3 linked regions of the Homo sapiens genome follow. The protein of the gene in region 1 interacts with the protein of each later gene in a pairwise test. Each region holds a gene or a part of one and is shown on either strand. Other genes may lie near its edges.

The links. The genes of interacting proteins can lie anywhere in the genome.
Region 2: the proteins of ZMYM2 (region 1) and FOXP2 come close enough for resonance energy transfer, tested with the Homo sapiens proteins (one study listed by BioGRID).
Region 3: the proteins of ZMYM2 (region 1) and FOXP4 come close enough for resonance energy transfer, tested with the Homo sapiens proteins (one study listed by BioGRID).

The regions. Positions count from the first base shown.
Region 1 is NC_000013.11:20,063,206-20,066,874, forward strand, and holds part of ZMYM2 (zinc finger MYM-type protein 2), read left to right. Parts: intron 1-1,245; coding exon 1,246-1,340; intron 1,341-3,645; coding exon 3,646-3,669. UniProt on the Homo sapiens protein: Involved in the negative regulation of transcription.
Region 2 is NC_000007.14:114,690,646-114,694,265, forward strand, and holds the end of FOXP2 (forkhead box protein P2), read left to right. Parts: 3' UTR 1-3,120; downstream 3,121-3,620. UniProt on the Homo sapiens protein: Transcriptional repressor that may play a role in the specification and differentiation of lung epithelium. May also play a role in developing neural, gastrointestinal and cardiovascular tissues.
Region 3 is NC_000006.12:41,594,712-41,598,380, forward strand, and holds part of FOXP4 (forkhead box protein P4), read left to right. Parts: intron 1-158; coding exon 159-280; intron 281-2,464; coding exon 2,465-2,531; intron 2,532-3,069; coding exon 3,070-3,239; intron 3,240-3,669. UniProt on the Homo sapiens protein: Transcriptional repressor that represses lung-specific expression.

The DNA of each region.
Region 1 (3,669 bases):
CAGCCTGGGCAATGTGGTGAAACACTGTCTCTACTAAAAATATAAAAATTAGCCAGGCGTGGTGGTGCATGCCTGTAATCCCAGCTACTCGGGAGGCTGAGGCAGGAGGATTGCTTGAGCCCAGGAGGTAGAGGTTGCAGTGAGCCGAGATTGTGCTACTGCACTCCAGCTTGGGCAGCAGAGTGAGACCCTGTCTTTAAAAAAAAAAAAAAAAAAAAAAATTCTAGAAGTAATTCATTATAGAAAGTTTAAAGAAGTGTTTGTGTCCTTTTTAATTTAAAAATGTTGTTAGCATCTGGGTGCGGTGGCTTATGCCTGTAATCCCAGCACTTTGGGAGGCCGAGGTGGGTGGATCACCTGAGGTCAGGAGTTTGAGACCAGCCTGGCCAACGTCGTGAAACCCCGTCTCTACTGAAAATACAAAAATTAGCTGGGCGTGGTGGTGAGTGCCTGTAATCCCAGCTACTGGGGAGGCTGAGGCAGAATTGCTTGAACTCAGGAGGCGGAGGTTGCAGTGAGCCAAGACTGCACCATTGCACTCCAACCTAGGCAACAAGAGCAAAACTCTGTCTCAAAAAATATATATATATAAAAAATATATAATATATATAATACATAAATATAATTTTATATATTATATACATCATGATGTATATAATATATAAATATATACAATATATAATATAAATATAATTTTATATATAATATATATTTTATATATATTATATAGTTTTTATATATATAATATATATAGTTAGCTTTTTTTTAAGATCCTTTGAAAATTAAGTTCACCTTCAAAGGAAAAATTATTTTCAGGTCTTTTGTAAAATAAGTGTGCCCCATTTTTCATTATTTTCTTAATCCATGGATGGCTAATGAGCACACTGAGTAGAATGTAAAACATTAGTTTTTGGAAAAAACATTTAATAGATTGAATCAGATTTGTACCAAGACCATTTAGATCTTGTAATTGGATTTCAGACTATAATAATTTTTCTGGTATCATACATTTTCATGAAAATTTTATGTTGATATTCATTTTATATATGTTTTTAGGAGTTTGAACAGTGTTTGTCAGAATTCACAAACCATGTTAGGTACAATGAGTCATTTACTCCCCAGCCCAGCCTAGATTGTCCCCATGTATGAATGCTGGTTTACATCCTGTGGTTAGTTCTTTGTTGGCTGTGTTTATGTAACCCTGTGCTATTTCATTTAAAATAAAAGTTCTGATTTGGTTGTCAGCTGCTGAGGAGCTTGATATGGAAAATGAATTTTTATTACCACCTGTTTTTGGCGAAGAATATGAGGAACAGCCCAGACCTCGATCTAAAAAAAAGGTACATTCACTTAATAGCCTATATAACAATATTTCTCTATAGGCAAACAAGGATACAGTGTTCTTTTAGTGTGCCTGAGAATATGGGAACATATTTTGTTTTCTAGGTTGGAAAATAATTTATTTTCTATTTATATAGAATATAGTAATAATATATTACTGCTATTTATTACTATTATTTATTACTATTTCTATTTGTATAGAAATAGTAATTATTACTATTTCTAGTAATAATAGTAGTAATAATTTATTTCTAGTAATAATTTATTACTGTTTCTAAGTAATAAAAATATCTCAGATTTAGTTGATACCTCAACTAAACTTGTATTGATACAAGGTCAAAATAGAAAACAGTTGCTAAAGTAGTAAGTTCAATTATTTGACAAAAATTTAGACTGTTTTCTAGGGAGCTGTTTTTTCCACGATTATTTCTGATGAGATGATCAGTGGGGTTGAAGTACACAGTTTATTATTTCTGGTCTCTTTTAGGCATACCAACACACATAGAAAGACATGCTGGACAGTTTGATCATTCAGGTAGACCAAATCTACATGCATTAACAAGTGTAATTGTTATAATATTCTGTCAACTTTCTGTGTTTCTGACTTCCAACATAAAGCAGGTTTTAAAAATACCTTAAGAAAGATAGCTTTCACAAATTGTCCCCAAAAGAAAGAAAAAAAACCGGAAAAGGGAGAGAATACTTGGAGTGGAATGAAGGTGGACTTCTGCTTGACACCAAACACAACAATTAACTCAAAATGAGCCATAGACCTAAATGTAAGAGCTAACAATATAAAACTCTTAGAAGAAAACATAGGCCTAAATCTTAATGGCCTTATGTTAGGCAGTTTCTTAGGTAAGATACCAAACGCACAGGGAAGAAAAGGAAAAATAAATAAATAAACTGGACTACATCAAAATTAAAAACTTTTGCATTGCAAACAGTGCCATCAGGAAAGTGAAAAGGGGGCCAGGCACAGTGGCACCTGTAATCCCAGCACTTACAGCACTCAGGAAGGCTGAGGCGGGAAGATTGGTGGAGCCCAAGAGTTTGAGACCAGCCTGGGCAACATAGTGAGACCTCTACAAAAACTAAAAAATAAAAACCAGCCAGGCATGGTGGCACGTGCCTGCAGTCCCAGCTACCCAGGAGGAGGATCGAGGCTGCAGTGAGCTATGATCGTGCCACTGCACTCCAGCTTGGGCAACAGAGCAAGACCTCTCCTCAAAACAGAACTCCAGCATGGATACTTACCTGGCAGGGGAGATACCGTGATTACAAAACTCTAGCATGGGTGACAGAGCAAGGCCCTGTCTTAAAAAAACAAAAATAAAACAATAAAATAAAAAAGTGAAAAGTACTTAAGTGTCACTCTCTATAAGGTGGAGTTGTTGAAAAGTTCTTCAGTTTCTGTTACAGTAATATTTAGATTATTAGTTTATTGTCTTATATTTATTTTCTCATCATTGGTGACTCTCACCACAGAATTTAATATGATTTTGTTGCACAAAGTGATTTATGTAGAAACATCACATTTCCTGGAATATTAATTGACTGTTGTCAGATTCAGGAATACCAGTCAGTTCAAAGCAAATACCTATATTTCATTTTTTCTTTTCTAATTTCATGACACATTAAACAAATAACTATATTTTTATGACAGATTAAACAGATAACTATATTTGTAATTACAGATGACCGTTGTACAATGCAGTGGTTGGGCTCTGATCCCCCCTGCACAGTCACAAATTTGTGTATAACTTTTGACTCCCTAAAAAGTTAAGTACTAGTAGCCTACTCTTCACTGAGCCCCCCTGCACAGTCAAAAATTCATGTATTACTTTTGACTCCCTAAAAAGCTAACTACTAGTAGCCTACTGTTGACTGGAAGCCTTGCTGATAACAGTTGATTAACACATATTTTATATGCTACATACTGTATTTTTATAATAAAGTTAGCTAGAGAAAATGTTATCAAGAGAATCATATGGGAGAGAAAATATATTTACGATTCATTAGGTGGAAATAGATCATCCTCATTGTCTTCAAGTTGAGTAGGCTGAGGAGGAAGAGGAGAGAGGTTGATCTTGCTGTCTCAGGTGGCACGATTGGAAGAGGTAGAAGGAGGTTGGAGAGGCAGGCACACAGAAAAACATACGTGTCCAAGTGGACCCCTGCAGTTCAAACCCATGTTGCTCAAGGGTCAATTGTAATTTGCCTTTGTTGAGAGATGGCTTGTATAAAGTAATGAAATAATGTAGGCTTTAAAAAAGATATTATTATGGTGTTTTTTACTAATAGGGAGCCAAGAGAAAGGCTGTATCA
Region 2 (3,620 bases), on another chromosome or scaffold:
AGAAACATTTGCATATCTGCATAGATCTTACAACTGTACTCTTTACCTCCTTGTGATAAAGCTTTGTCTACCTGCAAACACAGTCAAAGGCTACAGCTGCAAACCAAAGCCAACTCTAACCATGGCCAAGAGCTCAAGGACAGAAGCAGCCACATGCTTTGGTCAGCCTTCTGTAACTTCAATTAGTACAAAGGAACCTTTTCCATGAACTACCTGCTGTTTTCTGATGACCTCTGGGATCTTTTCATTTAGCCCTAAACAAAGAAACAAATATGACAAAAACCACAACTAAAAAATGTTAATTCAGTCACAGAGTAATCTTCTGAGGCCAAAAGTCCATCTAAATGCAATGAAGATTTGCTTTCATTAAAGACAGAGGTGAGGACAAAATCCGCAGTGGAAGTTATGATATGCTAGAAAGCAACAAATGTGGATCACTGACCAAAACGATTATGTACTTGATGCAAATGCAGATTGCATATTGTTATATATATAGTACTTTGTGTTTTTGTTTTCCCTCATTCAGTCAGTTATTTTCAGTGGTGAATACATGTTGTTAGAAGATGTCTTGTATGGTCTTAATCTTTGTTGTGTACTATTTTTTTATAGTCTTAAGTTATAATGAAAAAACAAAAAGTAGGAACCAAACATAAAAGGTCTAGTAAAGCCAAAAATTAATTTCATATTGATTTTAAAGTGATCTAGCTGAGTTTTTACACTGAAAGCAAAGATTATAGCAATTGTAGTCCATGGTATTTATTTTCAGTCAAACCAAAGTTACATATAATTCTGCCTCTGCTTATACGGGATATTAACACTAACAATACACTCCCTTCAAAGACTTGCACAGGCCAAATTGTTGGAATGCTGGTTTTCTTGACAATTCCAAACCCCAAAACTATGATAATGAGTTATGATGTAGTTGAAAATAGCATAGTCAGATGTTTGCTTAAAACCTAGAAACTTAACATGTTGCTTTTCATGTGCTGTGCCAAGTCTTGATAATACTTTTTCCCCCAACCAAGGGACCTCATAACCTGATTATGGTTATTGCTTTACAAACAGTTTTGACAGAAGGTGGCTGCTAGAGCTTAACATACGTTCCCGTTCCATGTGATGGAACCGGTTCTTGCAAACTAAGCTCATCATTGATTCTTTGCTGAAGTCAGCAAATAGAGTTAGAGAGATACCCAGTCATCTATCACACCAAATAAAAGGACATAACGGCTTTCAAAAGGGTTTTCCCACTTACCCAAAAGGCTTTCTGAAAGCTTCTACCTCTGCAAAAAAAAAAAAAGAAAAAAAAAAAAAGAAAAACATTAGAACAATTATGGCAGATTGCATGAAACGTGAGAACGTCACAGTAACTGCTACTTTTCATTATGTTTGTCTTTGGGTCATGATCAACGAACCGGAAGTTTACAATATGGTATTAAAAGAAAGATGGGTATGGTGAAAGATGGTTTTCAGTCATCTAGGATCCTACTGTAAGGATTATCTGAAAGGAAAAATGGGTCTTTCAGGTGCATGTTCAAAAGGCTTTGAGGGACTGGAAGTAACTGCGAGAGTTGTACCATCAGAAGGGTGGCCTAAGACTACAATGCTAAAGTATGCATACCTCAGTTAGAAAACTTTTGAAAGGAAGTCTCAGCCACAGAATGCATATACCTGTAGAGTTTTGCATGGGTTTTATATGAATACAATTTTAAAAAATAGCTGCTTGCACATTATACCAGAAAAACCTCCAAAACTGCAATTGCTTTGAAAATAGATTTTAGGTTTTTTGGAGTTTCCTGAAATGCTTGGTCTGTATTTTGATAATTGTGCATATTATGTAAAAATGTTGGTGGACCCATAAATGACCAGACTTTTTCTAAGAAAAATGTTGCTTTAATGCATTTCATGAATTTTTACTCTTATATCATTGCTTGCTAGTAATAGCAAATCTGCTTTTCTGCATCTGCTTTGCGTAGCTATTGTAAGGCTTTGAACTAATGTATGTATTTATTGCTTGAACTTCTGTGCATACCTTATAAAGCATAATGTCTGACAATTTAAATGGCTCATGTATTCTTGCTTCTATCATAAGCTGATTATGGGGACTATGATCTTTTGTATACAGCAAATTTTAAACTGTAGCACAAACATCTGTTTATGTATTGGTGGAATATACCTGTTTTATTTATCTTTTTTGAGGTAAACTAATTTTTGATACTTTTCATTACTGTGTACTATGTTCATACTTTGAATTCTCTGACGTTAGAAGTCATGGTTGAGAATTGTAACAGCTGTTATTCGTTCTGTATTCATGGCTTTCACTGCTGAATAAAATAAAGGACCAAACCTAGGATTTGAAAGAAAACTGTCTACCTCTAACACCAGGGAGTTATCAGATTTTATTTTACATAGTTTTAGTCTACAAAGACACAATTGCTTAAACCTAGTGGGCTTAAGGCTTATATTCTATGTGGTTGGATTCGTGGCACAGTTGTACTATTTGAAAATCAATTAAAATTTTATGTGAATGTTACAAGTATTTGGTAGAATTACCACTAACTGGGTTTTCTTTAGATAACTCAGATATGGAGAAAATGTCATCAGCATTCTGTGTCTACAGCTGCTTAACTTCATAAGAATGCATTTCTTTGTGATTAGGGAATCGAAGAATAGTCAGCTAGGAATAGAGCTACAGAAGTACACTTACATAAACCATCCTGGACTTTAATGTCCCTGGGCAGATTCAGTCGCAAAATCCAATATGATATTTTGTAAAGTTTTCAAGTTGGACATTTACATTTTTGAGAATTTTGAGACTTCATCTTACACATGCCAGTATTAACACACATTTGGACAATAGCTTTATTAAGTCTATAAAGCTATTGAAAGGAACATGGCTTACCCTTGTTATTTCACTAGTTCAGGTTGCAACGAAAGGTTTTTTTGTCCATGAACACTTGGCATATCTTACTTAGCAAAAAAGAAGGATGTACATTTTACTATAGAATTAATGTATGAACAGTGTGTCACTGCTGTTGGATGTAAAAATGTATATGAAACCATTTCATTCACTTGATTACATTTCTGAAGTATAAATAAAAAAATCTAATTCTTTTTGACCCATTTATAACCAATAGGATTTTATTCTTTCGGAGAGACCATTCTTCCATGCCAGAGCCAAGTCATAAATTTGTATACACATGTCCCACAATTTGTTTAAAATTATTTTCTTAGGGATTTGGGATTCATAAACCAGACCATACTCAAATGTAAAGATGGAGGCTGCTTGTCAAATGCATTCCATTAAAAACTGTCTTCAGGTTCCAAATTGCTTCCCCACACACTTATCTCATGTTTTCGTGTTTTTATTCTGATACAATTTGACATTATAAATTCTGAACATTAAAAAATGCCAGGGGAAAACATGATTACTCTTTTTAACTTTATGACTTTTTTGCTTTATTGTCTTTTTTTGTTTTGCCTCTGAATATCAGTCACACCCACAGCATCCAGCCATGGTTTAGGGGAATGTGTCAGAGATAGGTAAGTAGCTTCCAAGAAAATGCTTTTTAGGATATTAGGGATCTGTTCCAGACCCATATTAGTGGAAAAAAACAGGCAAG
Region 3 (3,669 bases), on another chromosome or scaffold:
TTGGCTGGGTCTCCTCCCAGCCCACCCCCCTCCCCTGCTCATCCCTGAGCTGGGGAAGGTGGGCCGCTGCTGCGTGGGACATGGGATGGGATGAGGACTATCATGTTTGTGCTTGGCCAAGCAAGCCGCCTCTGAGCTCCTCTTCACTGCACCCACAGAACGCCGTGCGCCACAACCTCAGCCTGCACAAGTGCTTCGTCCGCGTGGAGAACGTCAAGGGTGCCGTGTGGACTGTGGACGAGCGGGAGTATCAGAAGCGGAGACCGCCAAAGATGACAGGGTATGTGGGTCCAGAGCTGGATGGGCTGTACCTGCCCAGGGGGCAGGAGCCAACTCACCCCCACCCCCTACCTCTCCAGGGTACACATGTGCACCAGATCCTTCCTGGCTGGGGGAAGGGGTGTGGGGAGAAAGGAGCAGAGGAGACTAGTGCTTGGGGACAGGGGGCTGGAATCCGGAAGTGATGGATAATCAGAAGGCAGACATTTATGTCCTCTTCTGTCCTCACTCTGACTGAGGGAAGGGGCCAAGAAGGAGGCCTGGTAGCAAAGAGAGACAGGGGCCCCAAGTAGCCCTGGCCAGAGCTGGCACACAGGCAGATGCCAGCCAACGGGCCATGGGTGAGGGGCTGCCACCCCCAGGGCACCCGCTCTCTCAGCTCATCAGGATGACTAGACCTCTGAGGTCCCGCGACCCCACCAATTCATCTTACGGCAGAGGAGAGCCAGTGAGGGCCAGGGGCTGGCAGGAGGCCCCAGAGCAGATTTGTGGCAGAGCTGGTTCCAGGACCAGGTCTCTGCCCTCCTGGTCTTTTGTGCTCAGCTTCACTTCACCACCTGGCATTTTATTTATTTACTTATTTATTTATTATTTTTTTAATTTTATTATTTTATTCATTTATTTTTTTTGAGAAGGAGTTTTGTTCTTGTTGCCCAGGCTAGAGTGCAATGGCACGATCTCAGCTCACTGGAACCTCCACTTCCCGGGTTCAAGCAATTCTCCTGCCCCAGCCTTTCGGGTAGCTAGAATTACAGGTGCCCACGACCACGCCCGGCTAATTTTTTTTGTATTTAGTAGAAATGTGGTTTCACCACGTTGGTCAGGCTGGTCTCGAATTCCCAACTTCAGGTGATCCACCTGCCTTGGCCTCCCAAAGTGCTAGGATTATAGGCGTGCACCAGCGCACCTGGCCTATTATTTTTTTGAGACAGAGTCTTGCTCTGTTGCCCAGGCTGGAGTGCAGTGGCACGATTTTGGCTCACTGCAACCTCCACCTTGTGGGTTCAAGCGATTCTCCTGCCTTAGCCTCCCGAGAAGCTGAAATTACAGGCGCCCACCACCACACCCAGCTAATTATTTTACTTTTGGTAGAGACGGGGTTTCACCCTGTTGACCAGGCTGATCTCGAACTCCTGACCTCAGGTGATCTGCCCGCATCGGCCTCCCAAAATGCTGGGATTACAGGCGTGAGCTACCGCACCTAGCCTCCACCTGGCAGTTTAAACAGAAACTGAGGAGCCTGGGACAGGGTCAGGACCTCCCTTTGGCTTCCACGTAGCAGCAGTGGCCTTCTCCCGACCTCAAACAGCCCCACCCCAGCCACCTGCTTGCTGTGCCCCTTGGGCCAGAGCCCCTGGGTAAGGAGAGGAGAGCAAGTTAGATGGATGTCTCTGAGGTGTGGGGTGTCTGCTCCCCTCAAAGATGCCTGCTTACCAGGCAGGAGCCTTTGCACCCCAGGCAGTGTGCAGCCTGGAGAATGGAGGGAAGCCATCCCCTGGTGAATGCCTAGGGGCCAGTCTCCAGGCCTGGCTGCGCTTGCACCTCTGCTTCTCACCAGTTTGGTGACCTTTGGCTGTTTCCTTAAGCTCTGTGAGAGCTCTGTGATGGTGTCATCACTGGAAGAGGGACAGCCCCCAGCCACTGCTTTTCCTGTCCCAACTCCCGAACACCTTCCCGTGCAGAGAAGCCTTCTGTATGGAGGCTTCCATACAGAAGCCTCCATGTGGGACAGGCTGAGCATATGTCTGACATGTCCCAAAATCTAGGATGGCAAGACAGTGTGGGCAGACCAGGTGTGTAACTACTGAGACTATAGATTAGACCTTGCCAAACATTGGAAAATCTAGACCGGAGAGAAAACGGGTGGGGGGGCAGCATGCTGTGAAGGCAGACACTGGGGGGATGCCAGTTCCCACTTCCCAGCTCCGAGACCTGGACAGGTCCCTGAACCAAGCCCATCGCACCCACCTGTGAAGGGGCTGCTCCTGCAGGGCCAGTTGAGCGTGAAGACCGAATCAGACCAAGTACACACACAGCTCCAAGACAGCGGCTGATCCGCCCTGGCCTCCCGGAATAGGGAATGGGACCCATTCCCAGCACAGGCCGTTACTTAGTGAGAGTAAAGAGATGCGAATGAAGAGCTAAGTGAATGAGTGAGCCAAAGATGGCCTTCTCTGTCCTCCAGGAGCCCCACCCTGGTGAAGAACATGATCTCTGGCCTCAGCTATGGAGCACTTAATGCCAGCTACCAGGTGACCTGCCCAGAGCCCACCCACTCACCTCTACCTCCCGCCCCCTTGCTTTCTCATACAAGAGACCCCCATCCTCCCCTGCAGAGGACTCACCAGAGGAGGGAAGGAGGGTGAAGACCCAAACTCTCCGAGACCCCACCTCTCTGCCCCACCCCAACTCGGGGCCAGCCTCCACCTCTGCTTTCAAGGCTGGGTTCAGACAAGGCAGGCAGCTGGGAGGATGGCATACCTATAGCATCCCCTTTCCTGGTTTGTCAGTCTGGGGGTTCTCTGTTCCCTGGGAGAGGGGATAAGCCAGGCCCAGGTTCCAGGAAAGCTAGGAGGTAGGAGGTCGGGGGGTCAGAGTTCCAGCCATGGGGGAGGGGTGCTACATTCAAAGGCTGAGTTGGGGCTTGGGGGTTGCCCAGACAGATCCGCCCGTGGGGCCAGTAGGCAGACACACAGGCAGCTCTCTAGTGGGCGGGGAAGGCACAGCACTTGACTGAGTGTGCCCCATCCTGTGGAGCCACTGACGAGGCCCAACCCTGTGCCCCTGCAGGCCGCCCTGGCCGAGAGCAGCTTCCCCCTCCTCAACAGCCCTGGCATGCTGAACCCTGGCTCCGCCAGCAGCCTGCTGCCCCTCAGCCACGATGACGTGGGTGCCCCCGTGGAGCCGCTGCCCAGCAACGGCAGCAGCAGCCCTCCTCGCCTCTCCCCGCCCCAGTACAGGTGAGCACACAGCACGGACCCCCACCCACCCCAGCACCCCTCAACCACCAGGGAGGAGGCGTCATCCCCCACCCTGGGTGGGGTTCCCCATCCCACCCCCACCACGCCTCTCCCCAGGACAAGTGGCTTCTCTCTTCCTTCCCTCAGCCCTCTCAGCCCTCCCTTGTCCCACCTGCCTGTTCTTATCCCCTCTCCCCACCTCCCCACCTTCCCACCTTCTCCTCCCCATTTTCCCCCTTTCTTATTTTTCCTCCTCCTCTCTTCTCTTTTTTTTTTTTTTTTTTAAGACGGAGTCTCGCTCTGTCACCCAGGCTGGAGTGTAATGGCAAGATCTTGGCTCACTGCAACCTCTGCCTCCTGGGTTCAAGTGATTCTCCTGCCTCAGCCTCCCAAGTAGCTGGAATTATAGGTGCCTGCCACCATGCCCAGC